Linked DNA regions of Homo sapiens. The protein of the gene in region 1 interacts with the protein of each later gene in a pairwise test. Each region holds a gene or a part of one and is shown on either strand. Other genes may lie near its edges. The genes, in order: GAL3ST3 and RHBDD2.

Evidence for each region.
Region 2: the proteins of GAL3ST3 (region 1) and RHBDD2 interact in binary tests that used the Homo sapiens proteins (3 or more experiments, as listed by UniProt).

The regions. Positions count from the first base shown.
Region 1 is NC_000011.10:66,039,747-66,046,504, forward strand, and holds the end of GAL3ST3 (galactose-3-O-sulfotransferase 3), read right to left. Parts: intron 5,782-6,758; 5' UTR 5,670-5,781; coding exon 5,545-5,669; intron 4,172-5,544; exon of another isoform or gene 4,123-4,171; coding exon of another isoform or gene 3,932-4,122; coding exon 2,761-3,931; 3' UTR 1,019-2,760; downstream 1-1,018. UniProt on the Homo sapiens protein: Transfers a sulfate to position 3 of non-reducing beta-galactosyl residues in N-glycans and core2-branched O-glycans. Has high activity towards Gal-beta-1,4-GlcNAc, Gal-beta-1,4(Fuc-alpha-1,3)GlcNAc and lower activity towards Gal-beta-1,3(Fuc-alpha-1,4)GlcNAc.
Region 2 is NC_000007.14:75,874,639-75,882,649, reverse strand, and holds the start of RHBDD2 (rhomboid domain-containing protein 2), read right to left. Parts: upstream 3,617-8,011; 5' UTR 3,568-3,616; coding exon 3,390-3,567; intron 2,405-3,389; exon of another isoform or gene 2,335-2,404; intron 1,286-2,334; exon of another isoform or gene 1,160-1,285; intron 822-1,159; coding exon 414-821; intron 1-413.

The DNA.
Region 1 (6,758 bases):
AGCACCCTCTCCTAGTGCCTGATGATTCCATTTGCCCCTGATTCCAGATTTTTCTGAGGCCAGAGTTGTGCTCTCTGCTGAAGCAGGGCAAGGTTTTTAAAGGAGGGCCCGCCTGCCTGAGGGCCAGGGAGGCCAGGGGAGGCCTATTGCAGTGGTTTGGCTGTTTGTCCCTTAAACCTCATGTTGACATTTGATCCCCAATGTTGGAGGTGGGCCTAATTGGGGGAGGTGTTTGGCTCATGGGTATGGATTCCTCATGAAAAGATTAATGCCCTTCCTGGGGGATAAGTGAGTTTTTTCACTCTTAGTTCCAAGAGCTGGTTGTTAAAAAGACCTGGCACCTCCTCTGACCCCCTTGCTTCCTCTCTCACCCTGTGGTCTCTGCATACTTGGGCTCCCGAGCGGAAGCAGCCTGAGACCCTCGCCAGATACAGATACCAATCCTGAACTTTCTAGTCATCAGGATTGAGTCAAATAAACCTTTTTCTTTACCCAGCCTCAGTCACTCCTTTATGGCAACACATAATGAACTAGGACACTTATCAAAGTAGACTTGGCCGGGCATGGTGGCTCACGCCTGTAATCCCAGCACTTTAGGAGGCCAAGGTGGGCAGATCACCTGAGGTCAGGAGTTTGAGACCAGCCTGTCCAACATGGCCAATCCCCGTCTCTACTAAAAATACAAAAATTAGCCAGGCGTGGTGGTAGACACCTGTAATCCCAGCTACTTAGGAGGCTGAGGCAGGAGAATCACTTGAACCCAGGAGGTGGAGGTTGCAGTGAGCCGAGATTGCACCACTGCACTCCAGACTGGGTGACAGAGTGAGACTGTCTAGAAAAAAAAAAAGTAGACTTAAAGGCACGTCTGAATTTTCCAGGCCAACTGAGGGCAAGGTGAAGGATTTTCCTGGCAGAGGTATGACCAGAGGCTAGGGCTGGGGGTGCAGATGGAGACAATGGCAAGCACCTTATTGGCTGGGGGCCAGAGGACACCTGTTTTTGGATAGATCACTTTGAGTCTGGTACAATTCTTTACTGCTGCTTAATGTCAGAAACTTAATTATGCTTTTGCATGATTCTAATTATTGCCTTTTTCAGAGCTCTGCTGGTAAAAAGTGGGGTGCCATACAAACAGTCCCTTTTCAAGCCCAGCGTGTCATGCATCCTGCCAATCAATCACTGTAATGTCCATTGTCCAAACAGGTCAACCGTTGTCTCCATGAAAAACTGGATAAAGAGTTGCTGATAGCAGTGTCCTGGTTCTTCCCTTTACATTCTTTTGGGGGAAGGTGCTGGGAATCAGCCTAGCTTGTGGCATGTGACCTTTTTTATTTGAATGGCACTACAGACAGCACTTGTGAGCACAAACTCTGAAGCCACACTGCCTTGGTTGAGATCCTAGTGGCCACTTTCTGGCTGTGTGACCCTGACTTAATTTCCCCCAAGTTTCAGTTCCCTCACCTGGAAAACGGCACCCATCTCCAAAGTTAACATACATAAAGCCCTTAAACAGTGGCTGGCACACCGTAGACCATAATAGCTATTGTTTTTTATCACTTGTCCAGATACGTCGATATAGCTCTGAAGAAAGTAACAGAAAAAGTTCCAATTCTCTGCTAGTCTTAAGGGAGATTTCACCTGGAAGTGCTGGCTATCTTGCTGTGTTAAAGGAAACTGCAGAAAGGGACTGGTCTTCATCTGAGTCCAAGTTGTCTTCTTGTGAGGAAAGCAGGCCATTAGTGAAGTCAGTGATTCACAGGAGGAGGTCAAATTCTGAGTTAGGCAGCTCCTTATCTGAAAATGATCCTCCTTCCACCCAAAGAGGTGTTGTGCTCTAACCCCTCCAGTCCTTCCTCTTTGCTTACCTGTCTTGCTCCTGTTCCAATGTTTCCCCATAAGCTCCATGAAAATAAGGCCCTATCTATCTGGTTCACCTGTATCCCCAAGTTACAGAGATGATGCTCAGTAAATGTCGCAGAATTTTGTGAAAAAGAACGATGTGGAAAGTGAGTGGGGCTAAGGTGGCCAGTCTGTGTTGGGGGCCCAGTCGGTCAAGCGGTTGAGGAGGGTTGTAGGCCTATGCCAGGTGGCGGGGGACCTTGAGTCCAGGCCCCCATCCTCATGGGTCCAGCCACAGCTCCTCCTGGGCATCCGTTTCATCCTCAAATGTGGGGAATCCGGCTTCTATGACTGACATACAACTCGCACATTTTAAAGATGTTTTATTAAAAAAAAGAAAAACCAACCAAACAAAAATCCCAACCCAAGAACTCTTGGTTCTGGGAGACTGGGAGCAGCTTAGGTCTGTGGGGAGGGTAGAACCTGGAAGACAGAAAAGTATAGGGAGCCTCAAGCCCTGGGAGGGAGAGCAAGAGCAGCCTTTCCCTAGGGCTGAGCCTCTCTCCATGGGGCCTGGGCTTATCCACTTGGAAAAGACAGGTTGTGGGGGCTCAGCCCCCAGAAAAAGGCAGGGTGAGCAGTTCTGGACAGCCCTCAGGCCTCTTGTCAAAATCACCAACCAGCTGGGAAGGAGAGGGTGGCCCAGCGCTGGATCCAGCCTATCAGCGCCGTGCCCGAAGGCAAGGTTCAGCCCACGATCGGGAGCGGGGGCTCAGATAGGGAGGCGTACCCCAAAGTTCAGCGAGGGACTCAAGCCCCTTGAAAAGAAAGGGCTCTCATGGGGGCAGGACATGGAGGCAGCCCCTGGCTGGACTCCTGGGAGGGCAGGGCAGGACCCATACTCCTGGAGGCCTGCGGAGCTCAGGGACCTTGAGGGCCGCGAGGCAGCACTCGGATGGGCCGAGGCGGGGGATTGTCCAGGACGGGCTCGGGCCGAGCCCGCGCACCGCCCCGGCGCTTCTGCTTGCGCAACAGGTAGTTCGAGTACTGGACCTCGGGCATGGCCAGCTTGAGGCAGGCCTCGGTGGCCGGGCCGGCGCCGCCGCCGGGCAGGTCATAGCCCATAATGTCCACCTTGCGGCTGGGCTGCCACGGCTGCAGCTGCTTGGTGCGGATCTGCGCGGCAGGCCGCAGCAGTGGCTCGTCCCCGAAGCAGCGCCGCAGTAGGCGCTGGCGGGCCTCGCGCAGCTCGCGCGCCTCGCGCTCCACGCACGCGCGGCCCGCGCGCGCCACGTGGCGCCAGAAGGTGGCGTTGAAGTGGTCGTAGAGGCCGGCGTCCAGGGCGTTCCAGGTGCGCGCCGCCCGCGCCAGCGCCGCGGGGATGGCGGCCAGGCGCGAGCTGGCGGCGCGCGCGTTGAGCTTGGCGTAGAGCACGTCGTCCAGGTCCCAGGCCAGTAGGCGCCGCAGCAGCACTAGCGACTCGTCGAAGTACTCGGCGATCATGACGAGCGAGAAAACCTCCTCCACCTGGCGGATGAGGCCCGCCAGGTAGGCGGCGTCGTCGCGCGGGCTGCGCTCATTGTCGCCGCCCAGGTCGTAGGCCAGCGTGTTGTGTGCGAACATGGCGAAGTGCTCGCCAGCGCGGTAGTATGCCTCGGGCGCGCGCAGGAAGGCCTCGAGCGAGGCGTTGGGTACGCGCCGGAAGGCCGGGCAGTACTGGTTGTAGTAGCTGAAGAGCGACTCGAACATGGCGGCCGGCTCGCGCAGGATGGTGACATAGACGGTGCTGGGCGGCATGAGGCGCTCCAGCTCCGCACGGTCGAAGCGCAGGTGGCTGGCCAGCACGTGCGGCGGCCGCGTGGCCGGGTGCACGAAGTGCGCCGAGAAGTTGCGGGGGTAGCAGAACTGGTGCTCGCAGCTCGGGTGCGGCAGGGCCACCGTCAGGTTGTGGCGCTCGGCAAAGCGAAACAGGATGTTCTGCACCGTCGTGCCTGCCGTCTTGTGAGTCTTCAGGAAGGCCACAGTCATGTGCTTGGGGCGCGGCGGCGAGTTCCGCAGAGGAGGGCAGCTCAAGGGGAACAGCTTGGGGTACCTGCCAGGCCCAGGGAGTGTGCGGAGAGGAGGGTGTGAGGGGGCTGCCGCTTGACCCCTGCCCTTACCCAAGGACTGTGGGATGCCCCACAGCGCGGCCCCGCCTGGGCTGCACTCATGGAAAGGTCGAGGGCGGTGCTTGGTAGCCTCTAAGATGCCCTCTATGATCCCTGCTGCCCTCCTGGTATTCATGCCCTTGAGTATTCCCCTCACCTGAGTTAGGCTGGACTTATCATTGCATCTAAAGAAGAGAAGAGGGCAGAAATGATGGGATGTCACTTCTTAAATTTCATCATAGAAAGACTGTGGCTGGCTAGTATCTTGGTGTCTTTCACTCAATCTGGGATGACAGATGATGGGGGAAGCAAGCTGCCATATAGTGGGCAGCCCTATAGGGAGCTACCACTAAGTGGGAAAAGCCCACAAGGACCTAAGGCCCTCAGTCCACCAGCCGGCTTGAAGACCTGAAGCCTGTCAAAACCACGTGAGTGAGCTTGGAAGCTGATCCCTTCCAATCAAGCCTTCGGATGAGACTGCATCACCAGCAAACACCTTGGTTGCAACCCCATGAAAGACCTTGGTCCAGAAGTTCCCAGTAAGCCACACCTGGCTTCCTGACCCAAAATAACAGATGTTTGTGTTTTCAGCTGCTAAGCTTTAAGATAATTTGTTTATGTAGAAATAAATAAGGGACAAAGACCCCTGGAGATCTTTGAGGAATCCCACTTTGTATATGTAGAAACTGAGGGCCAAAAGGAGAACAATCACTTACACAAAGTCTGGAGACGACTCACATGGTCACTAAATCCTTTTGCTCTTTCTCATTTTTACTCTTTAACTGGCTCCTCACTTTGTAGATGGTTGGCACTGGGCTTTGCAGCAACCCATTGTTATGTTTCTCTTGAGGCTTCTAAAGCCTCATTAATTCAGTCATCAAATATTTTTTGGGTGTCCACTATGTGCCAGGTTAATGCTAGGTTCAAGAAATACAGTAATATACAAAAACAATCCTAGCCCTCGTGAAGCTTTCATTTCTGTTGCTTCATTCTTAAAACATGGGTGTTTGGGATTTCAAACCAAATTATCTGGCAAGGGGGGCTGGGCGCATTCACACCATTCTCAGGGGCAGACAGTGTAGAAAATGGGGACATGAAGTCTCCGAGAGGTGCAGGGATTTGTTGGGTTCACACAGTGAGTCAGGAGTAGGGTTGGGGTTCCCATGAATCACATGGTATCCTGTGTGAGGGTGACTGGCTGTGTCACACATATCATGTCTCACTTTATAGATGAGAAAACGGGGGCTCGGAGAAGTGAGGGGACTTGGCCTTGCCCAGCACTACGGAAGTTGTGAGAAGTTGTTTCCACTGGGGAAATGCTTAGCTGCATGCTGTGGGGAGTTGAGCTGGATTCGGATCTCAGCTAACTGATTCTGTAACTTTGAGCAAGTCACTCAGCCCTTTCATTGAAGAGCAGTCCCTGTCCAGGGAGGCTGTGTGGCCCTAAAGGGAAAGCACTTTCAGAATAGAGGGGAGGAGCAAAGCCTAGCAGGACCCTTCTAGCAGGTGGAAGAATGGGGAGGGGAGCTCCGGCCCCCCTGGGGCCCCGCCCCCTTACCAGCTGAGCTGCGCCCCCTGGTGGATGAGAAGGCTTACGGTGCTGCACCCTAGCACCAGCAGCAGGATTTTCCGGCGGCTCATCATCTTGGTGGCCTGCTGCAGGCGCTGGAGGATGGGTGGCATGGCGGAGTACCCACCCCTGGACCAGCCAGGGCCTCACTATCCAGGACTCCCTTCACAGGCACTCATGGGGGATCCTGCGGCTCTGGTAGCAGGGCCAGTGTTCCCGAGAAGCCTGGCAGAAGAAGGCAGACGGGTTTGCAGTGGGCAGAGGAGATGGGATCTGGCCCCCAGCAGGTCTGATGCAAAGAGCTCCAACAGGTGGGGTAAGCAGAGAGGCCAGGGCAGATCGGATTCCTACCTCCCGTTATCAAGACCCTATCTCCTCACTGCTCCAGATAACTTAGTCTTGGGTGGAATTACAGGGTCTGGGGTGTAGCCAGCCCTTCAGGCTGTAGCCACTCCCATCCCTCAGCCCTGTCTCTGTCTCTCTGCCTGCTCCTAACTCGTCTTTGTCTCATGGTTATTTGTACATGTCTCCCCAGTGGAGTGGCTTTAGCGCCAGGGCTTGGCTCAGAACATAGAGGTCTCAACTCAAAGTTTCCTCTCCTCCAGGACTCCTTGCCCAATTGCTTTAGCCCAGGGTTGGTCCTGACTCCCCAGAGAAACCGAGCTCCTCGGAAACACTGATCAGGCCTTCACCTCCTTGGATCGATATGGCTTTGAGTCGATACTGCAGGCTTACTCTATGTACTGTATTATTACATACTTAATCCCATTTAGTCCTCACCACAGCCCTGACCTAGGTATTATTCCCACTGTATAGATAAGGAAACTGAGGCTCTAAGAGATTATATCACTTGTCCATAGCTACACAGCTGGTAACAGTAGAAATGAGATTCATACCTGCTGTTTCTGGCTCCAAAGTCCATGCCCTTAGACACTGTATATGCTATTTCTGTAGAGAACTGGTTTCCCCAACCTTGCCCTAGACTCTGGCAATTCTGCATCCTTCTGAGTCCTGAGCGCTCCTAGCTGGGCTCCTGCCCTGAGGGCCCAAGACTGAGAAATTCATGAGGGAAAGGAAGGTCTTGAAATCCTGGAGCCCTATCTGGATTCCATCCCCAGACACCTGAAACCCAGGCGGCCCCATCAGCTGACTCTGCAGGGAAAAGTGCCTGACCAAAGCAATGAGATGGCAGCCTGGGCGGG
Region 2 (8,011 bases), on another chromosome or scaffold:
TAAAAAAAAATTATGATCAGATATGACTCGGCCACGGTGGCTCACACCTGTAATCCTAGCACTTTGGGAGGCCACGGTGGGTAGATCACCTGAGACCAGGAGTTCAAGACCAGCCTGGGCAACATGGTGAAACCCTGTGTCTACTAAAAAGAAAATATAAAAATTAGCCGGGTGTAGTGGTGCACACCTGTAGTCCCAGCTACTCAGGGGGCTGAGGCAGGATTGCTTGAGCCCAGGAGGCAGAGGTTGCAGTGAGTTGAGATCCTGCCACTGCACTCCAGCCTGGGTGACAGAGACTCTGTTTCGAAAAAATACAAAGTAAGCCCAATTTTATCTACTTGACACCCCAGACCCTCCAGCCTGGTTCACCCTTTGACATGCGTTGTTCTATAGCTCTCTGCTAGGAAGGATACAGGCCAGCCCGATGGACAGCCCGCAGACATTACTGAGGAAAGAGGTCTGGGGAATGAGCCACGAGGCACCCAGCAGGAGCCACGGAACCAGGACTGAGGGCACAACCATGCCAAACACCAGGGCCCGCCTCATCCGAGAACGGACGGTGGTGACTCCCAGCATGGCAAAGGCCACTGGGGTGAAACCTCTGGCATCCTCCACTTCCCCCAGCTTTGACAGTGATGACACAGCCTCGAATGACAGGAAGATGATAGCGGAGAAGATGGCGAAGATCACGGTGAAGAAGCAGTGGCGGACGGTGCCCACGGTTCTCTCGAAATTGCCAGCAAAGCGCCAGATGATGATAGCGCCGCAGAGCAGGGAGATGGGATTCTCGTAGACAAAGATGTAGGTTACCAGCCTGTAAACTGCAGAGGGAGTCGGGTTAGAGGCCTGGCGGCGGGTTGCTCCCAGGAGGGAAGCCAGGTTATAAGCCGCCTAGGAAAGGCAGAGAGCCCCCCTCCGTGACAGAGAAGTGAGAGCCAGTGAGTCGCAGCAGGAGGCAATACAAGCAGTGCGTTCAACAATGAAGGACCCAGAGCCTCAAAGGAGAGGCATGAATATCTAATCCCTACACTTCCCCAGGCCTGGTGCAACTCTTAGCGGTAACTGACTTCCAGAGGGAAAAAAATAATACTTTTCGGTAGAGGGCAGTCTCTGAATTTGTAAAGTGCTTTATAATCCTTTTTCAGGTTTTCATACTGACCTACCTCACTGGGCAGTTTGAGGGTTAATTAAGTGTAACAGCTTCGGGGTGGATTGAGTGGGTGTCACTTAACACTCTGTGTGCCAGTCTCCTCTGCTGTAATCCTGACCCCTCCTTCCATAGTGGCTGTTCAGAGGAAGAAAAAAGGGACCATGAATTATTTTGCAGCTGTAAGAATTATAACACTATCATTAACAATAAAGATTATAGAAATTATAAGTCTCCTCAGAAAGTGCTTATCCGATCTCACAGGTAAACTGATGCTTTATATGTAATAAGACATCAAAGAATCCTCCTTTTCCTTTTTTTAAATTTTTATTTGTAGAGACAAAGTCTTGCTACGTTGCCCAGGCTAGCCTTGAACTCCTGGCCTCCAGTGATCCTCCTGCCTTGAATTCCCAAAGTGCTGAAACTACACATACGAACCATCATTCCTGGCCTTTTATTTTTCTAAAAGCAGTTATCGCCAGGCATGGTGGCTCACACCTGTAATCCCAGCATTTTGGGAGGCTTAGGTGGAAGGATCACTTGAGCCCAGGAGTTCAAGACCAGCCTAGGTAACATAGTGAGACCCCCGTCTTTAAAAAAAATTTAAAAATTAGTCAGGTGTGATGATGTGTACTTGTAGTCCCAGCTACTTGGGAGGCTGAGGCAGGAGGCTCGCTTGATTCCAGGAGTTGAACGCTGCAGTGAGCTATGATTGCATCTCTGCACTCCAGCCTGGGTAAGACGAAGACCCTATCTCTAAAAAAATTTTAGAAGTGGTTATCTCTTAAGTATTTTTATGTCCCTGCATGCCCAAATACGACTAAACTCAAGGAGAGAGACCAAAGAACTGATGGTAATATTGGACTTGGGAGTCTAAAGACTTGGAGTGGAATCTTGGCTCTATTACATCCAGGCTGGCTGAGTTTAATCATGTCACAGGTCCTCTAGGCGTCAGTTTCCTCACTGTAAAGTAACAAGAGTTAGATTGAGGACTTCAAAGGTCCCTTACGTCTCTAACGCTCACATATCCACGAAACCCACACCCAGGGAAGCAGTGAACCCCAGAAAGTGGGAGGTTAAGGTTAGGTTGGCATTTTGCTTCTGTCTGTGAGGTGGTGCTATGTATACCTAGGGTGGGGGGAACAGTTTTAGATTGGAGTGGGGAAGCAGGCTATGGAACCATATACCTCAGTCTGGCCATCACCAGAGGCTTCATTATCTGAAGAGTACTTCATTATTTGTTGAGTATTTCCAAAACTGAAATTCCAAGTATAAACATGAAAAGATTCTAGAAGCAACTGTACATGATTTGGAGATTATCTACCCGAAGGCTCTAGTTCCAAAACATCACAGAATAAAAAAAAAAATATAGATTCCTATCTCAATTGCATGACGCAACAGCTCTGCGATTCTCTGCATGAAACCTCAATCTTATCTAGATAACGGGCCAATAACAGGTCCTACGTCATGGGATCCTTGTGAGGGTTAAACGAAATTAATACATATCAGTGTGTGTGCTTTGCAAAACAGCAGGAGATATGCAAATTTCCTGTGTTCCTCTCGAGAAAATGAGGAAGACACGGAGACTAGGAATGTCTTTCAGGAATGGATGTTTATACTTAATTGGTCTGCAAAATTTCTCTCCCCTAGAGAAAAACAAACACTTCTCTCCAAAGGCAGAAGACACCCTGGTACCCCCATGAGCTGGGAATGGCAGTCAAGATTAAGATACAGATGAAAAAGCAGAAGAAATTCCAAATCTCAAGAGGGCAGGACGTTTATAGGGCTTATAGGGGTTTGTGGATAAAGTCCAATTGTCGTGATGTAGGTGAGAGAAAAACGTTTTTCAGTGGGGCTTAGGCCTAAAGCAGACGTAGGTGTGTATGTGAAATGGGAGGGGGAGACGAAAAATCTTTACCCTTGGAGAGCGAGCATGGATTTGCTAGCGAATGGATTTGGGGCCTTAACCAGTCTGGTGGCGACAGGGAAGGGAACAAATTCGGGTAGGGAAGGGATTACAGTGATGACGAAGATGGGGTCTGCAGACAAAGGTGTGGAACACGGAGAGCAAGAGACGGTGCTGGAGGTCGGTCCTCCGGGGGGCGGGCATGGTGATGAGGACCGAGACAGGGGGAGACTGGCGGTGAGGCCTGAAGGGGCGAGTCCCGGAGGCTAGAGCCCAGGAACCGGCAAAGTCGGAGGACAAGGACTCGCCCCGCGATCCCGGCCCGCCCCTGCTCACCTTGCCAGTTGCGAAGGGCCTCGGACTTCAGCGTGAGGCCCGAGGGCGCCAGGGGCTGCTGCAGCAGGAACAGGCGAGGCCCGGAAACCAGCAGCGAGAGCAGCGCAGTGAAGAAGGTGGCGGATGGCACCTCGGGACACAAGCACCAGCTGCGACACCCGGGCCCCGAGGCCGCCATGGCCGCCGTCGTTCCCGCGCCCCGCCTCGACGCCGGCTGCCGGTCCTCTGCTCCTTCCGCCTCCTCGCGGCAGTTTCCCTTGGCAACAGCAGAGGAGCCGGCCGGAGGCCACGCCTCCCAGAGGCCCCGCCCCATGCCAAGTTGTCCAATCCGGTAGCGCCGATCAGCCCCCCCCCCCCCCCCCCCCGTGCGTGGGAGGCCGGGACGGGGGGAGGGGGGTCGGGGCCACTTCCGGGTAGGAATGTTCCAGCACCGTGTTTGATTCCATCCTACTCGGGCTGGTACTGAAACTGCTCCTATAAACTTTAGGAAATTAATCAGGGAAGAAGGGAGGGGGAAAAACGAAAATAAACGAAGCTTGCAGCACACTCTGCGTTCATCACTAGGTCACCTTGCTCTCCGACCTGCTTGCTCATAGCTCTGTGTATCAGCTATGATAGGTGCCCATCGTCTGTCCTAGAATCACGTAGACCCTGTCACAAGATTACAATTCCCCTTAACTCCATAGATAACAACTTGAACATTATGAAACGTTTTCCCTTGGAGATATTCTTTCAGGTCCCGCATACCAGCATAATTACTGACACCAGTTGTTCTGAAGGAGCCCACAGAAGCAAGACTCAATGGGGACTGCAGTTTCCATATCCTGAGGATTTCAACCCCCTTACCCTGACCAGTCGATGACCCCAATTTTCCAGCCCCTCACCCTTCACAATGCCCTTTAAAATCCCAGCCCGGAACTCCTTGGGGAAGATGGATTTGTTGGTCTCCCTGCGTCTCCTCCTAGGCACCCTGCCATCTTTAAACCCTTTTTCTGCTGATAACCCTGCTTCCTCAGTGTAACTGGTCTGTTATTGCACAGCGGGCCTAGGCACCTGTTGGTCCTGTAATAATACCTCATGATTATTATGCCTTACAGCTCACAGAACTCTTTCATATCACGATCTTCCCATCTGTATTCATCCCTATTACACCAAAGAGGAAACAGGACTAGGGAGGGCCCTGGGTAATTCAGTTACATGGCAAAGACAGAATTAGAACTCAGTTCCTCCTGCTATGGCCCGGAATTGGCCTCCAGTACAGCCAGGGGCAGCTTTATCTTCATATTGAAGAAAAGGGGCAGGAGGCTGGGCACGGTGGCTCACGCCTGCAATCCCAGCACTTTGGGAGGCCGAGGCGGGCGGATCACGAGGTCAAGAATTAGAGACCAGCCTGGCCAACATGGTGAAACCCCGTCTCTAATAAAACTACAAAAATTAACCCGGCATGGTGGCGCGTGCCTGTAATCCCAGCTACTCCGGAGGCTGAGGCAGGAGAATCGCTTGAACCCAGGAGGCGGAGGTTGCAGCAAGCCGAGATCGCACCACTGCGCTCCAGCCTGGGTGACAGAGCAAGACTGTATCTCGGAAAAAAAAAAAAGGAAAAGGGACAGGAAACGGGAGAGGGATTCAATGGAAGGGACTCAAAAGTTAGGGATGTAATAGAACACTCATAACCGAGATCTATTTCAGCACTTTACAGTTTGAAAAGTGCTTTTGCTGGAGAACAGCTGTTTAAGGTAGACCTTCCTTTTTTTTTGACAAGAGTCTCACTCTGTCACCCAGGCTGGAGTGCAGTGGCGTGATCTCTGCTCACTGCCACCTCTGCCACCCAGATGCAAGTGATTCTTGTGCCTCAGCCTCCCGAGTCCCAAGTAGCTGGGACTACAGGTGTGCATCACCACGCCCAGCTAATTTTTGCATTTTTAGTAGATATGGGATTTCACCACATTGGCCAGGCTGGTCTCGAACTCCTGACCTCAGGTGATAAGCCTGCCTTGACCTCTCAAAGTCCTGGAATTACAGACATGAGCCACTGTGCCCAGCAGTACCTTCAAGGGTACTACCTTTTTCGCTTTCTCCAGTGACCCTGCCCAGTACTCCCTCCCCTCACATGGTAGAAGTATTTGGCTCCTTCCCCACACACCCACCCTAGTGTTATCAGCTCCTTGCCCTTGGCTGCAGGCTTTGGTTTGACTCAGCTGTAACTGCTGCCCCCCATAGCTTAGAAGCTCCTGCTGGCTCTGAAGGAAGGAGGCTAAATTTTGGGGCTTGTGTGTCCTGCTTCAGTAGCACAATCATAGCTCACTGCAGCCTTGACCTCCCGGGCTCATGGTATCCTCCTGCCTCAGCCTCCCAAGTAGCTGGAACCACAGGTGCGTGCTACCGCACCTAGCTAGCTGCTTCTTTTTTGTAGAGATGGGATCTTGCTCTGTTGCCCAGGCTGGTCTTGAACTCCTGGGCTTAGGCAATCGTCCCGCCTTGGCCTCCCAAAGTGCTGGGATGACAGGTGTGAGCCACCATGCCTAGCCTGTTGTGTGCTTTTTATGTAGTTACTCATTACATTTTCACAACCCTTGTGAGGCTGGTTCTGTAATTACGCCCGTTTTACAGATGAAGCAATGGAGATACAGAGAAGTTAAGTAACTTAAAATTAGGCAACAAGTCTTCCAGGAATTTTTTTTTTTTTTTTTTGAGACGAAGTCTTGCTCTGTCACCCAGGCTGGAGTGCAGTGCTGTAATGTCTGTTCACTGTAACCTCCTCCTCCCTGGTTCAAGCAGTTCGCTGCCTCAGCCTCCTGAGGCACTTCCCATATTATACTATCATTGCATATTTGTGCCCGTAATTGTGAGCTTACCAAGGGCAGAAGCCATGTCTGATTTATACCTGTGTCTGTATCCACAGCCCTGGCACCTAGCACACAGTGGGGCCACAGAAAATGTTCAATGCAAAGTTATTAGCCCTGATGCCTTTGGGATGTGACCTACTTCCCTTCCTTGTCTCTTGTCCAGAAGCCGAGGGTTCTCACGTAATTGAGACCCCTGGGGACTGTTATAACAACAGCCACCATCCCGAATGCATTTCACACTGAATTTCTGGCAAGAATTTCAAGATATTTTTTGAAGAGGAGACCTGAGGTACACCAGTCTAGGATGGCATGGCCAGTCAGCCCACCTAGCTCTCTGTAGAAAGAGTTTTCTGCATTTGCTGTGCAGAGGGTTTAGGCTCGGAGAGGGCAGTTGCAGGAGATATTCACGTTTCCCTTAAGGGAAACCTAGGATTGCAGGTGTGAGACACTGCACTTTTTTTTTTTTTTTTTGAGACTGAGTTTCGCTTTTGTTCCCCAGGTTGGAGTGCAATGGTGTGATCTTGGCTCACCGCAACCTCCGCCTCCCCGGTTCAAGCGATTCTCCTGACTCAGCGTCCCGAGTAGCTAGGATTACAGGCATGCGCTAGCATGCCCGGTTAATTTTGCATTTTTAGCAGAAACGGGGTTTCACCATGATGGTCAGGCTGGTCTCGAACTCCCGATCTCAGGTGATCCGCCTGAGATCTCAGCCTCCCAAAATGCTGGGATTACAGGCTTGAGCCACCACGCCCAGCCCACTGGGCCTTTTTGTTGTTGTTGTTTGTACAGACAGAGGTCTCACTATGTTGCCCAGGCTGGTCTCAAACTCTTGGGCTCAAGTGATCCTCGTGCCTGGGCCTCCCAAAGTGTTGGGATTCCAGGCATGAGCCAAGCCAAAAACCAGGAGATAAATACCATGTTATACTGGCCATTTCCTTTAATGTTCCCTTAAAGGAGACATTAATGGCTCCTACATTAGCATTTGAGAAGCAGCCAGTGTGGAGCTGGTGGAGCTCAGGCTGGAAGTCAGGAGGAAGCAGGACCTCACCCTGGCTCTTTCACTCGCTGCCTGAGTGATCTTGGGTAAGGGAGCCTCAGTTTCCTCATCTATAAAATGGGAACTAAGTCTTATCTTGCAGGGTTTTGATGAAGAAAACAGATAAGATTGACCGAGGGACGAATAGGATGTGAGGAGGTCACACTGTGAGTTAGTGGAAGAGCTAGGATTTGAACTTGGGTCATTAGATCTCTAAAGTTGTTCTATTTCTTTTTATTTTTTTGAGACAGAGTCTTACTCTGTCGCCCAGGCTGGAGTGCAGTGGCGTGATCTTGGCTCACTGCAACCTCCACCTCCCAGGTTCAAGTGATTCTCCTGCCTTAGCCTCCCCAGTAGCTGGGATTACAGGCACATGCCACCACGCCCTGCTAATTTTTGTATTTTTAGTAGAGACAGGGTTTCGCCATGTTGGCCAGGCTGCTCTCAAACTCCTGGCCTCAAGTGATCCATCTGCCTTGGCCTCCCAAAGTGCTGGGATTATAGGCGTGCGCCACTGCACCTGGCCAAGTTGTTCTATTTCTTTTTTTTTTTTGAGACGGAGTCTCGCTCTGTCGCCCAGGCTGGAGTGCAGTGGTGCGACCTTGGCTCACTACAAACTCTACCTTCCGAGTTCACGCCATTCTCCTGCCTCAGCCTCCCGAGTAGCTGGGACTACAGGCGCCCGCCACCACGTCTGGCTAATTTTTTTGTATTTTCAGTAAAGACGGGGTTTCACCATG